2 linked regions of the Homo sapiens genome follow. The protein of the gene in region 2 purifies or fractionates together with the protein of the main gene of each other region. This does not show direct contact. Each region holds a gene or a part of one and is shown on either strand. Other genes may lie near its edges.

The links.
Region 1: the proteins of ERICH6 (region 2) and GLCCI1 purify together in Homo sapiens (affinity purification with mass spectrometry; one large-scale study listed by BioGRID and IntAct). This does not show direct contact.

Annotation. Positions count from the first base shown.
Region 1 is NC_000007.14:7,971,796-7,975,295, forward strand, and holds part of GLCCI1 (glucocorticoid-induced transcript 1 protein), read left to right. Parts: intron 1-3,500.
Region 2 is NC_000003.12:150,697,421-150,700,920, forward strand, and holds part of ERICH6 (glutamate-rich protein 6), read right to left. Parts: intron 1,463-3,500; coding exon 1,371-1,462; intron 1-1,370.

The sequences.
Region 1 (3,500 bases), on a different chromosome or scaffold from region 2:
ATCATGATGAAAACACTTTTCTGAGTCTGGTTGTGCAGCAGACAGATTTGCAGTGTCAGAGAGCTTGTGTTGGGAATGCAAGGGCTTTCTTTGCTAAAGATGTTTTTCTGCTGTTTTAAACACCAGGTGGTTTTGTCAGTTTCTTACATTGCAGTGATTTTTGAATGCGGGCTTCTGTGCCCCCAGTTCCGTGATTATATTACTCCTATGTTACTTCTCCATGTCCCGCCTTTTACCCCCACTACCCAAATTAAAACTGTCCTACTAAACTGTTCTGTTTCCTTAGCCATTTAAAATCCATGATCTGAACAGTTGATTTAATTTTTCGAATGATTATCTTCTCAATTTCTTTTGAATGCTGTAAGGTTCTGACTTGAGTGGATTTTAGCCTCCACTGGTCAAGGTTCCTGCCGCTGCCACTGCTGCTGCAGACACTGACATCACTATACTGCATGAATGAAAAACAACAACGTGCTCCATTTCTTCCTCTGCTCTCCACCTCCTCCTTTTTCTGCACACTTCAGTGTATGTGTGTGTGTGTGTGTGTGCGCGCAAGAGGGTGTTAAAACTGCGTTTGAAACTACACTTGAAAGCATTAAGTAGTTGATGGCTCAAGGGGTAGGTATATAGTATAAAGGCATATTGTTTATGAAAAGCTGCAAGGGCTATGGGCATTTCGACTAAAGGTGACATAACTGAGCATTCAGTGTTTCATGCATTTCATCTGGAGTGATGATTATAGGAGAAAATATGGAAGCTTAAAAATGTTTTTATGATTCTTTTACCAAAAAATTATGAAACCACTCAATTTCTAAATAAATTATATCATTATCTGCGTCTTAAGCATTCTTAATGTGAATATTTGTAGGGCTAAGGCTAGAGTAATAGAGAATTGATATTCAGATTGTTTCACAAGGCTGAGGAAAAGCTGAATTCTATAAATAGGAATAGTCAATTTTAATATTATTATAATATTAATTTATACAACCCAGGAAAAAATGATAATTTCCTTTATTTTTGTAGTATAGTTTTAAATAATTTAAATGGTTACCATAATAGAAATACGTAAATTGCCAAATACCTTGCTGTATATATAGCAGACATGGAGTTTTACAAATTGAAACTGTTTTGTTTGTGCTCATGCATCATCCTCTTTTTGCTTGTTTTTTTTCTTTTGTATTTTTAAAACTTCAAGGTTTGTTATTTACATTCATTCCTGTACTTCTGCCATTAGTAAAATGTCATCCTCCCTCTTGTTTGGTTCTGAAGGGTATTGCAGTGGTGAATGACAGGCTGCTGAATGAATCCTCAGGCTCCCTGTGATGTGTTTGTAATAGACGTAAAATCATAAAGTATTATGCAAATAGTTATTTTTTTGTAATGGTAATACATAAAGTCTACCTTTGAGATAAATAGAGCAACTCAAATGAGAAAAAGCAGGATGTTAGTGTTAAAATTAATGATCTTTAAGCTAAAATCATTAGTAACAACCAAAAGAAAATATAGTAAAGTTGCTTCTTTTTGAAACCTCACAGACCAGAACCCATGGATTTAAACATAGAACAAATACAGTTTTACTGTCCAAGATAGTAAGTAGGAAATGCAAATCTTTGTGTGCGTGTGTGTGTGTGTGTGTGTGTGTGTGTTTTGTAAAGATAGATCATTAGGATTAATTATAAGTTCTAAAAGATGTAAAAACAGTCATATTTAGAATACTCTGGATGGAGAATACAGCTTATTTTTAAGTGTACCAAATCTGATAACAAAAACATGGAAGAGCTTGTAATTTATATAGCTCCTGTTTTGAAAAATAGCATATGTTAGTTCCTGATTTAACATATCAGGTTTATTTAGGCCTAATACTCTACCAGATTGCTAACTCTAGAGTGAAATTTGATTAGACTTTTTCATGAGTATCTTGAGAGCCTCATTGTTTTATACATAAAGAAGTTATGATTCTATTCTAAAAGATAATGCAAATATAATGTTAACTCCATGTAATATATGTTTGCCTGTGTTCATTCATTTGCTTTCAGTTTTTCTCTTTTCCTTAAATTTATCTTTTTAAGTCATTTTTATACTGTGCTCAATGGAATACAAAAAATTTTAATAACTTTTTCTCTTTTAAAAGAGATACTCAGATATTCTCTTTCTATAAAGTTTTATTCTCAGGCTATTCTTGAAAATTAAGATCCTCCCTTTCCATTTTAAAATTAATTAATTTTCCTTGAGTGCTTATAGATACTTGTTTCAAAGCTTTCTTCTACATTAATGTTTTAGCTTTTTCTAAAGAGACAGGTTTCACATACTGACTTTTGGGAAAGGTTTTCATTCTCAGAAAACTATGCTAGAGAGCAGCAGTGTTCATTATTTACAGAACTATTTTTTTCCATCAGTTATCTCATGGTGCCTAAAATTTCTAGATCAATCAGTGAATAGCAAAATAGATAAATGAATTTATAGTTATTTAATCAAAATCTATTGTCTTATGTTCAAAGATTATATTCCTCTCAAATAACTGTTATTGTAAGCGTATTGAATATTGAATACCTAGCATGTGTAAATCATCTTAATCAGTTTTTAACTGTATGTAAAGTTCTGTGTGTATATATCGAACTGGAAATCATTTTATTAATTACAGTACTTTTTACAGAAGGACTGCCGTGTACGTTTCTGTAAGGACTTAATGCAAATTAGGATTTGTACTTTGGGGAAATGTTGAAGGATAATGGCGTCCTTGTGATTTTTGTTTTACTTGTGATAAGTCAGACTACATGTGAATAAGAAAATAAGGGAGTAACTGGGCTCCACAGCAGTGAGTGGAATGGAAATAAATGACAGTGTTCAACAAATGGCTAGTCGGAGAGGGTTTTCCTTAGTCTGAAATTTTAAAAAATTCTAAAAGTCTGTTTTATTAAAATGTTCACAGGTAGTTAATAATCTGCCAAAGAGTATAGTCTAATGACTTAGTTCTTCTTAATTTTAGTTTGGTCTTTTCTCCAGAACTTAACATTTCCAGACACCACTAAGATAGACTTTCTGGCAGCCCCTGTCCTAGTCTGTGTCTGGCACTGCTTTTTGTCTTCAGTATATAATTTATTCTTTTATTAAGTGTCTAAGAAGCTAAATCACTGACACTCTTTTTGTGCTACATACTGTTTAATTATTTTAACGAGAGGTTGAAAATATCTAACTTCTGGTTTCTGCCAAAAGTAAGTGGAGGAAAGGGAACACAAGTACTCATATATTGATATAGAAAGCCTAGGGAACTGATGGAAGGCAGATACTACCTGTATTTCCCTCTGCTCTTCATTTGGACCCTTGAAAGTGACCATAAGTTGACTCATCATTTGGCTATTCTGGAAGAATTTTTGTGCTTATTCTGAAAGACAAATTATAATGGATTAGCAGTAATTCTGAAAAATCTAAGGATTTTACTTACGAACAAATTGTGGAAAAGTATTTCATTGTAGCATGAACAAACATGGCAGATACCTTTA
Region 2 (3,500 bases):
TCTATTCTACACTTATTTCACTCTCCTTTGAGCCCACTCCAATATGGCTTTTATCCCCAGAGTTACACTGAAGCTGGTCCTATCCACATCACCAATGACTTCCACATGCTAGATCTAGTAGTCAGTTCTCAGTCCTCATCTTCCTAACCTCTGAGTATCATTTGAGCCTGTTGATCATTCCTGCCTCCTTGAAACTTTATTGGTATCTAGGACACTTCCTGGTTTTTCTTCTACATCACTGGATGCTTTTCCTTAGTTTCTTCCTCATGTCCCCAACTTAACAATGGAGTTCTGCAGGGCTCAATCTCTGGGCTCTTGCCCTCATATTTTCTCAGCAGCCAGCAGTCATTAAAAATACCAGTTGGATTATATCACTTCTCTGCACAAATTCTCCAGCAACTTCCCACCTCACTCCCAGTGAGAAAGATCTGGTCCTCAGATCTCTGTGATCTCATCCCCTAAGATTCTCCTCCCTGCTTACTCCACTGCAGCCACACTGGCCTCTTGTTCTAGAAGGAGGCACTTGCTGTTCCCTTGCCTGGAACACCTTTCCTGTGAGATTGTCCTGGCTCATTCTCTCACCTCCTGTAGGTCTTTTCTCAAATACCTCAGATTCTCAGGAAAGATTTCTCTGGGCACCCTGTGTAAACTTGCACCCTACCTCCAACCCCCGACACTTTCCAACCCCTTCCCTGCTTTACTTTTCTTCTTAGCACTTACATCATCTAATGTTTTATATATTAACTGATTTATTCTCTATATTGTTGCCATCACCTTCACTTCCCACACTTTAATATCACTGAGACAGGGGATTTGCTTGTTTTTTTCACTGCTGATACCCTATTATAGGCTAGACCTATGATAGGTGTTTGGCAAATGTTAGGTGCTTGGCAAATGGTAGGTGCTCAGTAAGCAGTCGATGAATAAATGACATAAAATAAAATGTGAATATAAAAGCTGAAGGGAAATATACTGGAAAAGTTAAAGTTTTAATTATTACATTATCCACTTCTTAGTGGTTTGACATTTAAAAAGTGTGCATATGTTACTTGTATAATAAAAAAATAAAGATATGTATCAAAAATATAATGGCAGATTATTTCTTGATGTGAACATAATTGCTACCATTTATTGAATACTGAAAATATTTAATCTTATTTTGATCTTCATAAGAATCCTGTGACAATATGACTATTTCCAAGAGATGAAGAAAGTAAGACTCAAAGAGGGTAAGCAACTTGCCCAACATCACAAGGTTAGTATGTGTTGGGGCTGGGATTCAAATCTAGCTGTACTGGCCTTCTACACCTGTGATATTTCCAACATGCAATCCCTCCTCCCAGGAAAAGCTAAGAAATCAAACTACTCACTCGATTGCACTTTATCAGACAAATCTTGGAGCCAACTTTCTTCTGTTTGTACTGATACTGGAATTCCTGGAGACAAATTGCGATGAATATTTCTGAAATTTCGACAAAAATGTTTTGAGTATACCTATATAGTTGTTAGCAGGTCTTCTAAACATCGAACATTTAATAATCAATTAATTAATGCACGTAGAAAATATTTTGTTTTCTTTGAAATATTTTCTTCCATTTTTATCTTTTCAGTAAAGTTAACTCAGTGTGTTTGCATCAAATCTTTTTTTGGGGGGATAAGCTGGGAGGATACCTTGAGCCCAGGAGTTCAAGACCAGCCTAGGCAGCATGGTGAGACCCTATCTCTATAAAACATAAAAAAATTAGCCAGATGTTCTGTTCCATGCCTGTAGCCCCAGCTACTTGGGAGGCTGAAGCAGGAGGATGGCTTGAGCCCAGGAAGTGGAGGCTGCAGTGAGCCGTGATTGTGCCACTGCACTCCAGCTTGGGAGACAGAGCAAGGCTCTATCTCAAAAACAAACAAACAAACAAATAAACCATGACCATACACTGAAGTGTCCTTGCCCTAACTCTAGTAATAGTAGGATTTCCCAGCTTCACTCCTCCCTGCCTAGACACTCCACAGGAAATGACTCTAACATGCCCCACCCATCTGCACAGGGATCATAGCAGACTCTCCTATGCAAGCTCTGTCAGAAAACAGAACTACTAAAGCTAGGGAAGGATTCCTTTCTAGCTATTTATCAGCCATTCATTTATAAATAAAAATGGGCAACGAAGGATTACCACTTAAGAAAAATCAATAGCATTGAAGAGAAAAAGCAAGAGAAATAAACAGAACAATTGACTTTGAAAGGAAAAATAATACGAAGAACAAAGGAGAACTTTAATATATTAGAACAAAGCCCTCAAAGAGATAAAAACAAAAAAAAAAAACACAAAAAACAAACCAAATAATTTTGAACAGCAACAATCAGAGAACAAGCACTGGTTCTTCGAAATTTCAAATATGAATCCTCCAATAAAAAAATTCTGTACAAGGGCTGTATAGTAGCATGTAAACAAACATCAAAAATCCTGAAGATACTGAAAATACAAAGGAAATGTTATTAAAGATGGAGAATCTACCTAAGAGGTCCAACAGCATCTAGGAGGAGTTCTGAAGAAAAGAAGAAAAGGGGAGGAAGTAATTATATATCAGAATGGTCTGAGGATAAGACTGGTGAGGCAGTATTGGCTACTAGGAGGCAAAGAAGCAATGTCTTCAGATCTCTGAGGGAAATTTTTTTTTTTGAGATGGAGTCCCGCTCTGTTGCCCAGGCTGGAGTGCAGTGGTGCGATCTTGGCTCACTGCAAGCACTTCCTCCAAGGTTCACACCATTCTCCTGCCTCAGCCTCCAGAGTAGCTGGGACTATAGGCGTCCGCCACCATGCCCGGCTAATTTTTTTTTTTTTTTTTTTTTTTTTGTATTTTTAGTAGAGACGAGGTTTCACCATGTGAAATGGTTTTAAATCTCTTCTTTTTGGCAGGTTTTTATTTATTTTTTTATTAACAAGTCAAGTACAAGGGCAAAATGAAGAAATTTCAAAGCAGGCAAGAACTCAGAAATTTGACTATCCGTGAGACCTATATAAAAAATTCACCTGAGGAGTTTCTCCAGCAAAAGGAAAAGCAACAAAAGAAAGAAGACAATATGGGAACCAATAAAGTGTGGCTGGTGAGCCAACCCAGAAAAACTGTAGACAGAACAACAGAGAGTCAAAAAGTTTATTTTATTATTATTATTTTTTATTTATTTTTTGAGATGAAGTCTCACTCTATTGCCCAAGCTGGAGTGCAGTGGTATGATCTCGGCTCACTGCAACCTCCACCTCCTGGGTTCAAGCGATTCTCCTGCCTCAGCCTCCCAAGTAGCTGGGAATACAGGCACACGCCACCATGCCCGGCTAATTTTTGTATTTTTAGTAGAGACAGGGCTTCACTATGTTGGCCAGGCTGGTCTTGAACTCCTGACCTCGTGATCTGCCCACCTCAGCCTCCCAAAGTGCTGGGATTACAGGTGTGAGCCACTGCATCTGGCAAAAACTTTACTTTTTAAGAGACAAGTTTTATAGACATAG